3 separate regions of the Homo sapiens genome follow, and regions 1 and 3 are each reported to be linked to region 2. Evidence: microRNA targets listed by miRTarBase, many of them from high-throughput screens and not tested one by one. Region 2 holds a microRNA gene; each other region holds the end of a gene's coding sequence.

Evidence for each region. The annotated mature microRNA hsa-miR-4292 reads CCCCUGGGCCGGCCUUGG and lies in region 2 at 2,576-2,593, opposite strand. An mRNA with a match to its seed (bases 2 to 7 or 8) in the 3' UTR can be bound and repressed. Matches are read on the target gene's strand: a 7mer-m8 pairs with bases 2 to 8, a 7mer-A1 pairs with bases 2 to 7 and ends in A, and an 8mer does both.
Region 1: miRTarBase lists CLMN as a target of hsa-miR-4292. Seed matches in the 3' UTR shown: 7mer-A1 at 1,344-1,350.
Region 3: miRTarBase lists NIPA1 as a target of hsa-miR-4292. The part of its 3' UTR that is shown has no 7-base or 8-base seed match.

The regions. Positions count from the first base shown.
Region 1 is chr14:95,187,323-95,192,322 of GRCh38, reverse strand. CLMN (calmin) reads left to right here. Exons shown (of 13, transcript NM_024734.4): 13 at 591-5,000. The coding sequence ends at 759. Among named protein-coding and RNA genes, the nearest start is that of DICER1-AS1, 32 kb to the right of the region's middle.
Region 2 is chr9:136,828,412-136,833,588 of GRCh38, reverse strand. It overlaps MIR4292 (microRNA 4292), which reads right to left and starts at 2,632; the gene lies at 2,566-2,632. RABL6 (RAB, member RAS oncogene family like 6) reads right to left here. Exons shown (of 15, transcript NM_024718.5): 4 at 5,043-5,095; 5 at 4,105-4,196; 6 at 1,728-1,868; 7 at 1,219-1,324.
Region 3 is chr15:22,823,532-22,828,531 of GRCh38, forward strand. NIPA1 (NIPA magnesium transporter 1) reads left to right here. Exons shown (of 5, transcript NM_144599.5): 5 at 197-5,000. The coding sequence ends at 708. Among named protein-coding and RNA genes, the nearest start is that of NIPA2, 13 kb to the right of the region's middle. RefSeq lists an enhancer at 3,358-4,110.

The DNA of each region.
Region 1 (5,000 bases), not on the chromosome of region 2:
AAATCTAGTAATTATTTTAAAGGTAATATTCCAAAGCCAAAACAAAACTGTGGGGAATGGGAGAGGTCTTTGTTTCTTTCTGATAGATGATTTAAAATGATCTGCTATTAGGGACACTTCATCCCTTAGATGACCTATGGGGTCCCCTGCGTTACTAACAAACAGCAGCAAGCGATCAGTATCTAACTCCGTGTCACTCTCTGAGAGCACTGTGGCATCAAGAAAGGTGTCCCAGGAGACCTGGCCTAGGCGCCCTCTCTGTCGCCAAGTTAATTGCATGGCCTTGGGCAAGTCACTCCACCCCGAAAGCCTCAGTGTGTCCATCTGCAGAATGGGGCTGCCACCTCCTCTCACCTGATGTTATGGAGATGAACGGAGTACGTGCAAAAGCTCGAGGGGCTGCCTGGATGGCCCGACGCACTGCCTTGGGCCAGTACACACAGTGTGGGGCCTACCTGGACATGGTGCTGGGGAGCCTTCGGGTCTTCAGGCGGGGAGTGGGGGCCGGGGAGAGACGGGTAGCACTGGGTGGGGTCCACTTTCCTGGGAACCTGCTTGGTAACTGCGTTTCCTCTGTGTTTCTTCTGTAGGAAGGCCAACAGCTCAGGAGAAGCCATGTCACTGGGGAGCCACAGCCCGCAGAGTGACTCCCTGACACAGCTTGTCCAGCAGCCGGATATGATGTATTTTATTCTCTTCCTGTGGCTCCTGGTGTACTGCTTGCTGCTCTTCCCACAACTGGATGTTAGCAGGCTCTGATACGTGTGTCTGGATAATAAAAAAGACAGGACCCTGACCAGGGGCGGGGTTACTTCATTTTATTTTGGGTTCTGGGTGGGGCACTTCTACAGACAGTTGAGGACCTCCGAGGAAACTTAGACCCCCTTTCTCGCTATTGTGGTTTTTTTTTTTTTTTCAGGTTTCCTTTTTTTTCTGGACAACCTGAGCATGCTTTTTTCTTTGGCTGTGTACTCAAAACTCAGGCATGCAGCTGGATCCGTAGGTGGGGTTTTGTCCTTGTGTGCCTTGCTGGGTTGGATAGGGAGCATTGTTAGTGATCATTAGCCCGCCTGGATCTTAGCACACCCCACATTGCAGGTTCACACGCTGGATGAACTTGAGTTTCTTACCTCTCAGATGAAGGGCTGCTTAATGAGAAAGAGGGTGGGCACCCCAGGCCAAGCCCCAGCTGGGGAGAGAGCTGCCACGTTTTCCTCCAAGCGTGGGTGTTTGAGAGAAGGTGCTGGGGTCCATGCACCTGTCGCAGTCCGGTAACTGGTTGCATTCACTAGGGGAAATCCGAGCAGCCAGCTCTGTGTAAGCACATCCAGGAATGGCAGAATCCAGGGAGGAAGGTGAAAGCTGTGTTGAGAGCCACTGTGTGCTCTTTTTCACCCTGTTTTTTTTGTTGTTTTTTTGTTTTGTTTTTTGTTTGAGGGGAGATAACACTTGAAATTCAGTTTTCCATTGATTGGATTGAGATAGAACCATGATTTTCAAACCAGATCGCCAGGGCCCAGCAGGGCCATATAAAAGCCATGAGGAGTGGCTGGGCTGGAATCAGCTCCCAGCAGTGCTGGAGCTGGGTGGTGGGGTAGCTTCCTGCCCACTAAAGCTTTGGTGCACACCTCCCTCAGAATGCATGTCTTGGAACGGGCATTCTTTGTGGTCACTTGTAATGGGTTTCTTGAAGAGGCTTTCTGGACAGCACTCCGGGAGCAGGCCAGCACAGGAGGTTTGTGAAAGAAGAGAGGCATCTCTAGCACCCCTGCCCCCAGTCTTCCTCAGCCCCAGGCTCCCTCTGCTCTCTCCTCCCTGCCAAGACTCAGGTCCGTGGTGAGTCTCTGCATTGGTTCCTCCTCCCCTTGCTCTCCCCTTCAGAAAGCATGTACCAGGCAACCCTTATAAAATCACAAATGAGTCAGGAGGGGACTCAGTGAGCATCTTGTCTAGCTGGACCCAGAGAGACAGAGCAGCTTGACCAAGATCATATAGCCGACCAGGGGCAGACTTGCAGTGAGCACACAGGCACCTGATGCCCTGTCCAGAGCTGTCACCCCTTGTAGGAAACTTCCACTGGGCACACCAATGTCCTGAGAAAAAGATAAAATGACTAGATTAAAATGTCCACATTCAAGCAAAACCAAAAAGTTTAGACCAACTATCGACATTTGTTTTGTTCTTGTATTTTTCCCATGAGGAATTCTTACTCACCTTCAAGCTCATCCCCAATTCCTTCTGAAATACCCTTGACAGCTGCAACAGCTTGTCATTTGACATACCAGCGTCGCTCTTACTCCAGGAATCACGTTTCTTTCTTTGCTAGCCAAGGACTTGCTCATTTCAAGCAGTGGGTTTCAAGTTTACAGAATTCCAGCATGGCCAGAAGAATTTACATAGCACATCTGAGTCGATGACAGCCAAAATCTGGCCTCTAAACCAGTCTGATTATAGTCTGTCTCCCCTCCTGAAAGAATTTCAGCCTTCCAACCAGAAAGCTGCTGGGAGCTTGGAGTGATTCCATCTGGAAGGCCAAGAGCCCCATGGAAAATGAGCTAATTAATGAGCTCCCTGGCATCAATGAAAGCTCAAAGGTACAGATAATAAAGATTATGTGATAGTTTATAACTCTGGGCACCATGCAGTCCTTGCCTAAATTAGATGCTCGAAGAGCCTGGGAAGAGCCAACCCAAATGTGAATCATTTCATTTTATGGGTCTAGACCTTGTTCAGAAAAACCTCTGCAAGATACTTCTCTCACCTATTACAACTTGTAATATTGTTTAAAACATCTACTGGCAAGATGCCTGAAAGTCATTTGGTTCAGGTTGGCAGTCAACTGATATTTTGCAAAGGAAAAAAAAATCTCATTTGAGTATAGGCTTCTATGGAAGAAGCTGGATATAGAAAATGGATGTGGAAGTCTGCAGGACAAACCACCCCATTGCTTGTAAATTTTTTTTAAATTAAAAGAAATACAATAAGGCTTTTAACAAGAACTAGCAGTCCCCTAAGTCTCGCTGCTTAGAAGTAACCACTTTCAACTCTCTTATGTTTGCATTTCTACATAACGTGCTTACACTTTATTTTTTAATTTAGAAACATCTACTGGCTTGCTGTCACAGTAGAGGAGGATTTCACTCTTACCATACCGTGCTTTGGTTTTCCAGTATAGCTAGATCACATCATTTAGTACATTTCTATTAGGTGTTGACATTACCTGGAGCACTTAAGGATTGTTGACTCCCAAGCCCAGCAGTGTGTTATGGTTACATGTCCTTTCTCCTCCAAATGTCCCCATTAATTTGCTATTCTCTCTCTTTACTTTTTTTTTTTTTTTGGTGTGGCACATTCTTTAATAACTTCCTGAGGAAGAGAACATGGGAAGTAAATATGGTTGTAAATATTTTGAGATTTTTGCATGACTTAAGATGTCTGTATTCTGCCCTTAACAGAAATGTGGCTGAGCATAGAATGACAGGTGGAAAATAATACCCTCCCCTAGCCCCTCCCAAGCGTGCTGGTTGAGATTTCTGATGCCATTCTGATTCCCGTACCTTTATATGTGACTTAGGTTTTTTTATCCACCCTTCCTGGAAACATTTAAGATCTCTTTATTCTTGGTGTTCTGAACTGTCATGATGGTGTTGTATCCCGGGTGTTAAACCTTGTGCTGGGCCTTCATGGGAAATTTCTTAAATTTTCTTGTGATTATTTACATTCTTTCTTTCTGGACCACCTATTATTTCAATGTTGGACCCTCCCCTACACCCAGGCTGATGCTCTAATATTTTTTATCTTTTCTATTTTTCGTCTATGTTTCTGATCTGCTTTCAGGAAGAATTATTCATTTTTATCTTCCCAATCTGAATGTTTTATTGAATTTTTATTTTCCAAGTTAATAAAACCTTTGGTTATTATCCTGTCTTTGTTTTACAGTGTCCTGCTCTTGATGCGTGGATGCAGATTTTGTCTCTCTGTGGACGTTAATGATTGTGGTCTGAGGGGAAGTCTTTTCTGCTCCCTGTGTTGCCCTCATTTTCTCTGAGTTCTCTTTATTTTGGTGGTCTCAGTCTCTATCTTTCACGTTGTGAATTTTTCTCAAATATATGGTGATCCTATGGATCTGTTCATGTTTTAAGAGTGAGGCATCCAAAAGCTGATTGGAAGTTGTGTGTGCCAACTGGTGAGCTTTTCCACTAGGGTCACCAGGTGGGCACCTGGACTCATCATTGGAGAACACTGCCTGTCAGTATTTGCACGTGTTTTCTCTGGGGCTCATTCTGTTTCTTGAGAGATATTCCCACTACTCTCCTTCCTGGGAAACGGGCATACACAGGGCTTTTAGCCTATGCTGAGTACTCATGTGGTTTCAAAAATGGTGTCCCATCTGGGCAGAAGTCCCCATGAGCACTTGGCTTGACTGGCAAAGGACACCTTTTGCCCCTTCCTCCAGACATACCCAGCTCTGAGCTTGGACAATGCTCGAGGAACAATGAAAAGGCTAGATTTTAACTCCTAATTGCCCTCTTTAGCCAAGTGCCTCTGTGCAATGCACAACTGTAGGACCATATCCAGAGACCCTGGTCTATACTCAGTGTGCCCGAGTCCTGACCGCTGAGCAGGCAGCCTCATCACCCGTGAGTATTTAGACTTTCATTAAGTTGCTTCAACCTTTGCTGTGCCTGGTGTCCCTGAGTTGGAGCTGCTCTGATTTCTCCATGGAGTAGGAGCACAGTGGTCATCTGGCTGCATGGGAAGGACAGGGGACCTCAGAGCCAATAAATGCCCTGGTCTTCAGCCCCATGTCTCACCCCATCCCTCCTATTCCAATCCCCAAGCCTCTCCTGGAGGCCACAGGGCATCTCTGCTGACCACTCTGTGGCCTCCCCTCTGCAGGCATGTGGTTTTAGGATCCCCCTCCCTGCTCACTTTTCCATCAGTTCCATTCCTGCATAAATAGGTTGCTAGCTCTTGCTTACTGTTCTCTTCTGTATTCT
Region 2 (5,177 bases):
GTCCCCAGACCCAGCTGGGGCAGCCCAGGGTGAGGAGATTCAGGTCCCCCAGACCCAGTCGGGGCAGCCCAGGGCGAGGAGGTTCAGGTCCCCCAGACCCAGGCGGGGCAGCCCAGGGCGAGGAGGTACAGGTCCCCCAGACCCAGCTGGGGCAGCCCAGGGCGAGGAGGTTCAGGTCCCCCAGACCCAGGCGGGGCAGCCCAGGCAAGGAGGTTCAGGTCCCCCAGACCCAGGCGGGGCAGCCCAGGGCGAGGAGGTTCAGGTCCCCCAGATCCAGCTGGGGCAGCCCAGGGCGAGGAGGTTCAGGTCCCCCAGACCCAGCTGGGGCAGCCCAGGGCGAGGAGGTTCAGGTCCCCCAGACCCAGCTGGGGCAGCCCAGGGCGAGGAGGTTCAGGTCCCCAGACCCAGGTGGGGCAGCCCAGGGCGAGGAGGTTCAGGTCCCCAGACCCAGGCGGGGCAGCCCAGGGCGAGGAGGTTCAGGTCCCCAGACCCAGGCGGGGCAGCCCAGGGCGAGGAGGTTCAGGTCCCCAGACCCAGCTGGGGCAGCCCAGGGCGAGGAGGTTCAGGTCCCCCAGACCCAGTCAGGGCAGCCCAGGGCGAGGAGGTTCAGGTCCCCCAGACCCAATCAGGGCAGCCCAGGGCGAGGAGGTTCAAGCCTCATCATTTGCTGGGCTACTTTGCAGCCACAGCTGGCCTGGCCCTTGTTTCTACAAAGGAAAGTGAGTTTAGTCCGTAGGCCAAAGTTGGTTCCTTGGTTTTGACACAAGCACCAGGGAAATGTGAGATGTGAACAGCGAGTACCTCGGTGACTCACGCCTGGCATCCCAGCACTTTGGGAGACAGGTGGGAGGATTGCCTGAGCCCCGGAGTTTGAGGCCGCAGTGAGCCATGATTGCGCCACTGCACTCCAGCCTGGGCCACACAGCAAGACCTTATCTCAACAAACAAAAACAACCAAAAACACTGGGGGAAACTGAGCAAGGGGTCCCCGCAGAGGTGGAGGGGCTCCTGGGACTGGGTCTAGCCCTCAGGACCCTGTACCCTCTGCCACCCAGAGCAGGCAGGTGCAGTAGAACGCTGGGCCCTTGCCAGCAGCCAATCTCCGAGCAGGTCCACAGCTTTCTCAGGGGTTAGGAGGGAGACCCGTTGCTACACAGGAGACACCTGGAAGGAGGTGAGAGACCAGCAGCCACTCCACCCCACGTGGTGAGTGCTTACCTGAAGCTGCAAAAATGGGATATTGAAGAACTTATGAAGGTACTTTAGGCCGAAGCTGTTCTTCATGGAAGACTCAGCATAGCGGAAGTAGGAGGAACCTGGAGGTCTGCTTTCAGAAAGGAAAAAAGATGCAAGAGAAAGACCCTTGCCCTGGTGCCAAGGATCACCCCTGGGCCCACAGCTGTGGGTCCGCACTGCCCTCCCTCCTCCTGCAGGCTCCTGAGGCCACAGGACCCTGCTGAGCCCTGCTAAGCAGCTAAGCCGAGTGCCCTTCTGCAGGTGACCCCACAGTGCCAGCACTTCACCCTGGCACACAGTTCCCCAGCACACAGTTCCCGGCCCTGCCATCGGGGAGACCCAGGCTTCAGTGAGCCCCACTCAGCGGCGAGACCCACATCCGCCGGGCCCCATGCTAACGTTAACCCCTCCCTGGGCCTCTGCCTCAGCACCCTCCCCCGCACACCGGAGCACCGGGCAGGGTCCCTCGGGAGCAGGGCCACCGCACCCACCTGTCCAGGTTGTCGATGAAGTCACGCACGTCGTCCGGCAGGATGACTCGGTGCTCGCCCATGTCCCGGTAGTTTCCCAGCACGCACACTGGCACGTGGGTGGGCACTTTTGGAAGCTCCCGGAGAATGTAATTGAAGGTCCTCGGAGAACAGGTGAGGACCTGGCTTAGTTTCAGCCCTGCGACGCCCTGTCCCTCCCTGGAAAGGTGCTGTGCGCCCAGGCCCGAGGATGGTGGCTGCTTCTCATTTCCAACATCCAACCCAGCAGAAGCATGCCTCGTGCATGCAGAGCTAGAGGGAAGTGCCTCGAGGGCCTTCGCACCCCTCAGCCTGCAGCCCCCGCCCGTCCCTCTCCCTGACGGCAGGTACTTGACCGCACCCCACACTGGAACGCCCCTGCCTGTCCCTGCCTTCCCTCAGAGCACCCCATGTCCGCATCCCTACAAAACCACCTCTGGCTTCATCTGTGTCCACCCTCATTCCGCACTGTCCTCTGTGCCCCTTGGTGTCGACCCTGTGGCTGGTCCTCCAGGCTCCCTGCCCACCGGGGCAGCCGAGGACACCCTGGGGTGCCTCTGCGGCTGCCGGTGAAGCGGGCTGTTTGGAGAGCCTTGTCTTAAGCAGACATCTCCTGGCACGGACGGCAAGTCTCCAGAGTCTGCCTGGCGTGGAACTGCCAGTTTCCCAGCTGCGTGGTTTTCCAAATGGCTTGTGAAGAAATAACCAGCGCTTCAAGTGACAAAACTTCCCCACGACTGAAAGCCAACATAAGGGAGTAAAAAATGCAACATCCTGTTTCTAACTTCATTTTCTTTCATTTACACGCAGTCATTTAAACGGGCCCCTCACCAAGGCCGGCCCAGGGGCACCTCTGGCCTCCTAAGCAGGTGGCCTTCTGGTGTCTCCTGCCTCTCGTGGCTGTGAAGGGCCTGCGTGGTGCTTGAAGCCGCTGTCTGAGCCAGTGTTTTCCATCCTTCCTGCTGGGCACCAGGGGCTCCAGACAGAGCATTGCTACCATAGGCATCGCCTGCCCAGGCTGGTGCTGCCAACAGGGTCTCCGGGCCCACAGGTAAGCGCCTTTGCCGCGTCTTCTCAGGCTGGCTCAAGTCTCGCTGTCACTCCCGCCCACTCCTCGCACGGCAGCCCAGGCGGCTGCAGCTCCCTCCAGGCCGTTCCTGTGGCAGCAGTGGGAGGTGCCGTGGAGGCCACACTGTGTCCACACTCAACTTCGCTTGGGAAAAGCCACTTCCCACCCACCAGGCTGGCCTGCTGCCTAGACAGGAGAGGCCGGAGGGAGAGGAGCACCACTGCTCGCCCAGGTGAGGCCAGCGTGTGCGCCCGAGCTGAACTCGTGCCCTGGGGTGGGGCCGCCAGCCCCGTGTGTGGTTCTCCTGCCATCCGTGTGCCACACCCCCACCGAGGGCTCTCCTGAGGGTGCCTGCGGTCAGTCCTTGGTGGTGGTGCTGAAGGCTGGGAGGGCAGGCATGGTTCCCAGCATTGGCAAAGGTTGGCAGAGGCCCAGAGCATGGCTGGTCAGGTGCTTCAAGCCGCCCTCAGGCCTGGGCTGCTGATGCGTGCTGAGTGTGCGGCCCCGTGACAGGCGGTACGCTTAACCCTGGTGTGGGGGTCTTCCCAAGTAAGAGAAGCTGCTGACTAGGCCCCCAGGCCAGACCCACTGCTGGGAAGAGCAGATGCCTGGACGTGTCGGGCATGCTGCTCCTGGTGCTCCGGGCACTGGCTGTGGCTAGGAGGGGCCCTGCACCAGGACACTGGTCTTCACGCGGCCCTCGTTCTTCTAGGAGCCTTGTGCCAAGTGTGCGTCCGCAGCACCCCCCCGCTGGGGCTCCGGTGCGTCCTGGGGGACACTGCACTCCTGAGGAGCTGAGTGGATCCCATGCGACTCCACAGTGGACTCTGGGGGCTTGCGCCTGGTCCCCCAGAGATCGTCCTGTGTGCCACTGCCCTTAGCTGATTTCGCTGTCATCTTCTTGCTAGAATGAATCTTGGCTGTGGGTCCTCCTAGGTCATGAAGACGGAGGTCGCGGGGAGCCCCCAGCACAAGCAGCCACTTGCTTCCGCCAAGTCTCAGATGGGTTTTCAGGAAGAACAGTGGGGCTATGGAAGGTGCGTGCCTTGCCCCAGATGCCTTTTGCAGCCGGCCCACGCCATCCCGCCCCATAGGCACAGGCATAGTCGTTGCCCAGCCCGACATCCAGGCCAGTGCCCCTTGTGGCTGAGCTGCCACAGCTGCCCAGCAAGAGTCCCTCGGTCCTGCAGAACGATGCTGCTCTAACCATTATCTGCTGCACAAAGAGGGCGCCCAAGGGGCTAGGGGGGTGAGAGTCACAGGCAGCTGCCCCCGCCAGCTCCCTCTTACCACTGCTTGGTAATGTCGAACATCATGACCACCCCGTTGCAGTTCTTGTACACGTCCAGGAACTCAGCATCCAGGGCCATTTCAGACTCCGCCTGGGGACAGGAGGGAACAGGTGTGAGACTGGCCCAGGCTGGGCCCCACCCGTGTGGCCCACAGTTTTAGAAAAGGCTGGATAGTCTTCTAATCTGAAAAGATAACAGCCATTTCCATTTGGAAACGATATGCTGAAGAGATGGGATAGCTAAACATAGGTTTGCCCCAAAGGGTCTGACGGTCAACACCAGCCTCGCTGATGGCTCCCTGAACAAGCCTCCTACCCAGGACCTCCCACTGATCACAGCAGTGTCCGCCCCAGGCCTCACGGATAACCAAACCACCACTCGAAAATAGAAGTGGGTGCTGGACTACCAGCTGCCCTCAGCTAGATGTGCGTTCCGGAAGGTTCCAGTGCCCACAAACAGGGTTAGCTGCAGTGCTGTGGGCAGAGTCACTCCACCCCATGCTCTAAAGGGAGTGGGAGGCACCGCACGGAGAGTGCGAGGCCCTGGGTGTGTCGGGCTCAGGTTGGGTTGGCCCCAGGTGGCTCCGGTGAGCGAAACTCACGCCCATGGCGCTGCGAGATGTGTCCTGTGCTTTGAAGGGCCGAGCCCACCGAGACTGGGATAAAAGTTTGGCGAGTTCACTTAAATACCTCTCAGGTCACTCAAATGCAAATAGGGGTCAGTCCAACGTGATGTCTGTCGAGTGCAGGTGAGCCGGCCACCCCCAGATACAGCCATGGCAGTGTGGGGTTTTCAGAGCAGTTGGGAAGGCCAGCGGCCCCCGTGGCCACAGCATAACTGGGGTGGTTGGGGTCAAAAGCGTGTGAAGCGCTGGGCACCGGCTCACGCACCCCGGGGCCCTGAGCCACTGCTACCCACTGTGTACCTGGCACTCACCTCCTGGGGGTCGTTCTCCATCTTTAAGCCGTCGCCTCGCTTTTTGCATTTTCCTTATTTAAAAACAAACAAAAATTACGAGGTGGAACCCCTGGGCCTTGGGCCATAGGAGGAGCATGGTCCCCCCATGGCCAC
Region 3 (5,000 bases), not on the chromosome of region 2:
GATGGGAATACTTTTGTGGAATGAAATCAGTGGGTCTGGTAAATTCAAGCCAGAGCCCACATGCTCCCCAGGGCTGTGCCGCAGTAGAGGCCGGTGGCGGGTGGCGGGTGGGGGCCCGGGTGCTGCCCCAGTCCACCTCCTGGGTTGCGGCTGCTAGGCGGTGGCTCCGGGTGACTGTGTGCTGTCTGTGTTCCAGTGTTTGTGGGCTACCTGTGCATCGTGCTGCTCATGCTGCTGCTGCTCATCTTCTGGATCGCGCCGGCCCATGGGCCCACCAACATCATGGTCTACATCAGCATCTGCTCCTTGCTGGGCAGTTTCACCGTGCCTTCCACCAAGGGCATCGGGCTGGCGGCCCAAGACATCTTGCATAACAACCCGTCCAGTCAGAGAGCCCTCTGCCTGTGCCTGGTACTCCTGGCCGTGCTCGGCTGCAGCATCATCGTCCAGTTCAGGTACATCAACAAGGCGCTGGAGTGCTTCGACTCCTCGGTGTTCGGGGCCATCTACTACGTCGTGTTTACCACGCTGGTCCTGCTGGCCTCAGCCATCCTCTTCCGGGAGTGGAGCAACGTGGGCCTGGTGGACTTCTTGGGGATGGCCTGTGGATTCACGACCGTCTCCGTGGGGATTGTCCTTATACAGGTGTTCAAAGAGTTCAATTTCAACCTTGGGGAGATGAACAAATCTAATATGAAAACAGACTAGATTGCAATAGGAGCTTGGATGGTTCGAGGAATAGGCATTGGAGGTGGTTTCTGGCCGTGATTGGATGTGAAGTAGAAGAGGTCCTCGATCATGGTGTTAGAATTGACTGGATAGTAACAGGTGGTCTGGTGGATAGCGGGGAGCATGGCTCAGCACCAGAGCAGAGGCCCAGCCAGCCCTCTGCAGCCCAAACGTCCCCAACGGTTGCCTGGCACCATCTCTCTCTGATGAGACGAATCTCATTTTCATTTCCATTAACCTGGAAGCTTTCATGAATATTCTCTTCTTTTAAAACATTTTAACATTATTTAAACAGAAAAAGATGGGCTCTTTCTGGTTAGTTGTTACATGATAGCAGAGATATTTTTACTTAGATTACTTTGGGAATGAGAGATTGTTGTCTTGAACTCTGGCACTGTACAGTGAATGTGTCTGTAGTTGTGTTAGTTTGCATTAAGCATGTATAACATTCAAGTATGTCATCCAAATAAGAGGCATATACATTGAATTGTTTTTAATCCTCTGACAAGTTGACTCTTCGACCCCCACCCCCACCCAAGACATTTTAATAGTAAATAGAGAGAGAGAGAAGAGTTAATGAACATGAGGTAGTGTTCCACTGGCAGGATGACTTTTCAATAGCTCAAATCAATTTCAGTGCCTTTATCACTTGAATTATTAACTTAATTTGACTCTTAATGTGTATATGTTCTTAGATTAGAATAATGCAACTTCGAGTATGCTTTAATATTTCAATATTCAAGTTACAAATGTATAAGGCAGTTAGAAATAATACAGTCACATGTCACTTAATGATAGGGAAACATTCTGAGAAATGCATTGTAAGGTGACTTTATTGTGTGAACATCATGGAGTGCACTTATACAAACCTAGATGGGACACCTATGACCCACCCAGGCCAGATGGTACAGCCTGTTGCTCCTGGGCCACACACCTGTACAGCATGTGACCGCACTGAATACCGCAGGCAATTGTAACACAGTGGTGAGTATTTGTGTTTACAAACATAGGAAAGGTACAGTAAAACTATGGTATTACAATGTTATGGGACCACCGTCATGTAAGTGGTATGTCTTTGACAGAAACATGGTTACGTGGTTCATGACTGTATATTCACTGGAAGATAGTCAAGACTAAAGACACATTAGAGCAAATTGACCCCTTTAACATGTGATTATTGTCCAATTAAAGACAGTTGATTTAAGTAGCATGAGGTATTATTTTATTTGTATTCGATCTGTGTTACCTGGGATCCAGTATCAAATATATCCACATTCTTTATCAGCAAGCATTCATGGCCATTCAGAAGAAATAAATTAGGTAACTTGATAATAAGGCTAAGTGGGAGAGTACCTGTTCAATAGCTCATATATCGAGTACCCTGTCATACAGGAACAAGTTAAAGGACACAATTGAGGTTAGGCTAGCTTCTACAAATTGCAATATGCAGTTTTTGAAAGATTTTCTAACAAAAAGCCAATAAATGTAGCCATCTCCTTGTTGTTTGCAATGGCAGAGCATCCTAGAGTTCCTCAGCTAACCTCTCATTATGTGTCTTAAATGCAAAAGAGCCATTAATTATGCCAGTATTTGAATCAAAGAGGTCATTCTCTGTCTATAGTGTTCCCATCCATGTGTTCCAAATGGGAGCATAGCATGAAGTGATGCACATATTTCACCACGGTATCATGTACTTCATGGCCAGTGTTTTATCTCAGCAGGGAACTACGCCAAGTTGAAAGATGGGGTTGGGTAAAGTAGATTAGGTGAAGTAGAACATAAAATTGAATAGTACCCAATTAAAGTTCCTCAGTAAGAAAAAAAATGTGTTTTTGTAGGCAAAAAGAACATTTCTAAAGTCTCAAGGAATAGCTTCCTAAAGTGTTGAGTAAAGAGGCTAAATAAAATGAGACTAGTTTAATATAGAGAGAAAAATACCTTTATGGAGTAAACGTGTACATGATGATCATGGGTTGTCAGTGATTTGTGAACTGAGAGCAGCAACAACATTATTTTTTAAAAATCTTAAATCCTCTCAATGGATGGTTAACAAATGCTCAAAGTCCATTACTCTTTTTATTGGCTCTTGCAGGTTTTGTGTTTTATCATCAGTGCTTTTAGAAATGCAGGCCTTAACTTACTGAACTGAACTTTCTGAAAACGTAATGTAGCAGTATCAATATACTTTTGGGCATAAAAATAGTTTCCTAGGTAAGGGGTGTGAGATATTCAAAGAATACATGTGGCTAACAAGTGTAATGAGAAAGTTCATGTGTCACATGAAAATGATCATGTTTGTGTTGCTACAGCTTTTGTGGGAAATTTAGTTTAAAGGCAGCTCTTGGTGTACCTTAGTATATTTTAATCCACAATTATACCATTGATACTGAGAGGTGATACCCGATGATCTTCTCTATAATATTCTTAGAGTAAAACAAAATCTCAAAAGTATTAATAGCTCTTCTACCCTTGAAGGTGACTGGTCCTGGGACAGTTAGAATCTTTCAGGTTTACCTCTGTTCAGCAGATACTTCAGTAGGATACATAGCTTTTCTTCCAGTGAAACAAAGTTCATATCATCCATTGTTTTTCAAGCACGTGACACCAGCCTCAAAGTAAATGACATGACCAGTGGTTGAACAGTCTAATTTTCAAATTTAATATAGAGCATATAACTTCTGATTTGATAGTATTTATTTTAAAAAATTATGTTTTCATCATTCATTTGAAAATGAAAAAGCCCCAAAGTGAGAACTTTGGGGGAGGGCCTAGAACATGGATAGATCTCTTAGTGGTCTTTCCAAAAGTACATGTACTTGAAATATTTTCATTATCATACTATTCTTTGAAAAAAAAGATGCTTACTGTATACTTGTTTTCAAGCATCCTCTAAAATCAAAGGTTTTGATCACAATATGCAGATTTCTCTTGATAGATACTTAAATAGGCTATTTCTCTCCTCTTCTTGGGCAATGCCTTGTTTTCTCCTCTGAATATTTGCATTTGAAAGGATTGCTTCCTGTTCTGCTCATTGATCAAAGGTAGGGCCAATTAAGGATTCTAACCCTAACCCAGCACCACAAAGCCCCCCTGGAGCATCTTCCCGGCTGGCAGGACCATGCCATCTCTGTGGAGAAGGTGCTGGGGAGGGAAGTCCTTCCAGTGCCACATGGAGTGAGGCCCTGCCCATGCTGGGGACTTTGGGGAGGAATTTGGTATTCTGGTGGCCTTGCTCAGCTCTCATTGAGATCTTTTCCTATCAGAATGTTAGTGAATATACTTCGCAGCTCTTTGTTCAGCAATAAGGAATATTCTTTCAATTCCTGCTCTTCAAGCCAATTTACTACACCCAGTTGTCTTTCCAGAAGTTCATCCCAGCGGTAATATGTTGGTGTTTGTTCTTCTTTGGATTTCACATCTGTTTTCTGGTAGAAGTGAGCACTGTTCACTTGTGCAGTCGTCTTATTTTCCTTCTTCCTAGATGACTCAGCTCTTTGTAAATGTTGTGCTCAACTTCTAGGGGCCAGTTCTAGACTTTGGAGATGCAGTGTCTCCCAGGTGTGCACGGACACCTGGTCCGTGGAAACAGGTGTGATGGGCACAGGCTGCTGCCCTTCTGTCTGGTCGGGGGATTCCTCTTCTTCAAGCTGCTCAGCTAACCCAGAAGAGGGGAGAGAGTACTCCGGTGGTTCCCAGAGCCCCTCCCGTTGTGCCGCTTCGACCTGACACCTGCTCGATGCTGACTTAGGCTTCCTGCCACCAAGCAGGAAACTAGAAAGAGAACATTTCAGTGTAAGGTCTGTTCCCGACAGCATGGATTAGCTTCCGTGTTCTGAAGTTGTTCTTTTCATGGTGTCTGACACCGAGGGCGTTGTTCGTCCATCAGGCGGGATTGGATGGAGTCTTGGTGTTTTGCCTTCTCAGGGACCAAAAATGTATCATTGACTCCTTAACAGTGACCTTCCTCCCAAGGACATATCCGTGTTCATTTTTCATAGGTTTTACTCATATTCATAGGTAGATTCTGTTAATGTGAGTTGGAAAGAAAAGACCAATTTGTACACCAGTCACACCACAAGACAGTTTATCATATAAAATACCTCAATTTTTTGTATTCCTCATTTCCACCTCACAATTGTACTGGTGATGAATTTTAAGGGTCTGTCCTTTAGCTTATAGGTGATGTTTCACATCTGGCCAGATTCTTATACCTCCATTGTATACTTGAAAAGGTTCAGAATTACAGGAACAGCAGTGAGAATTTGGCCCAC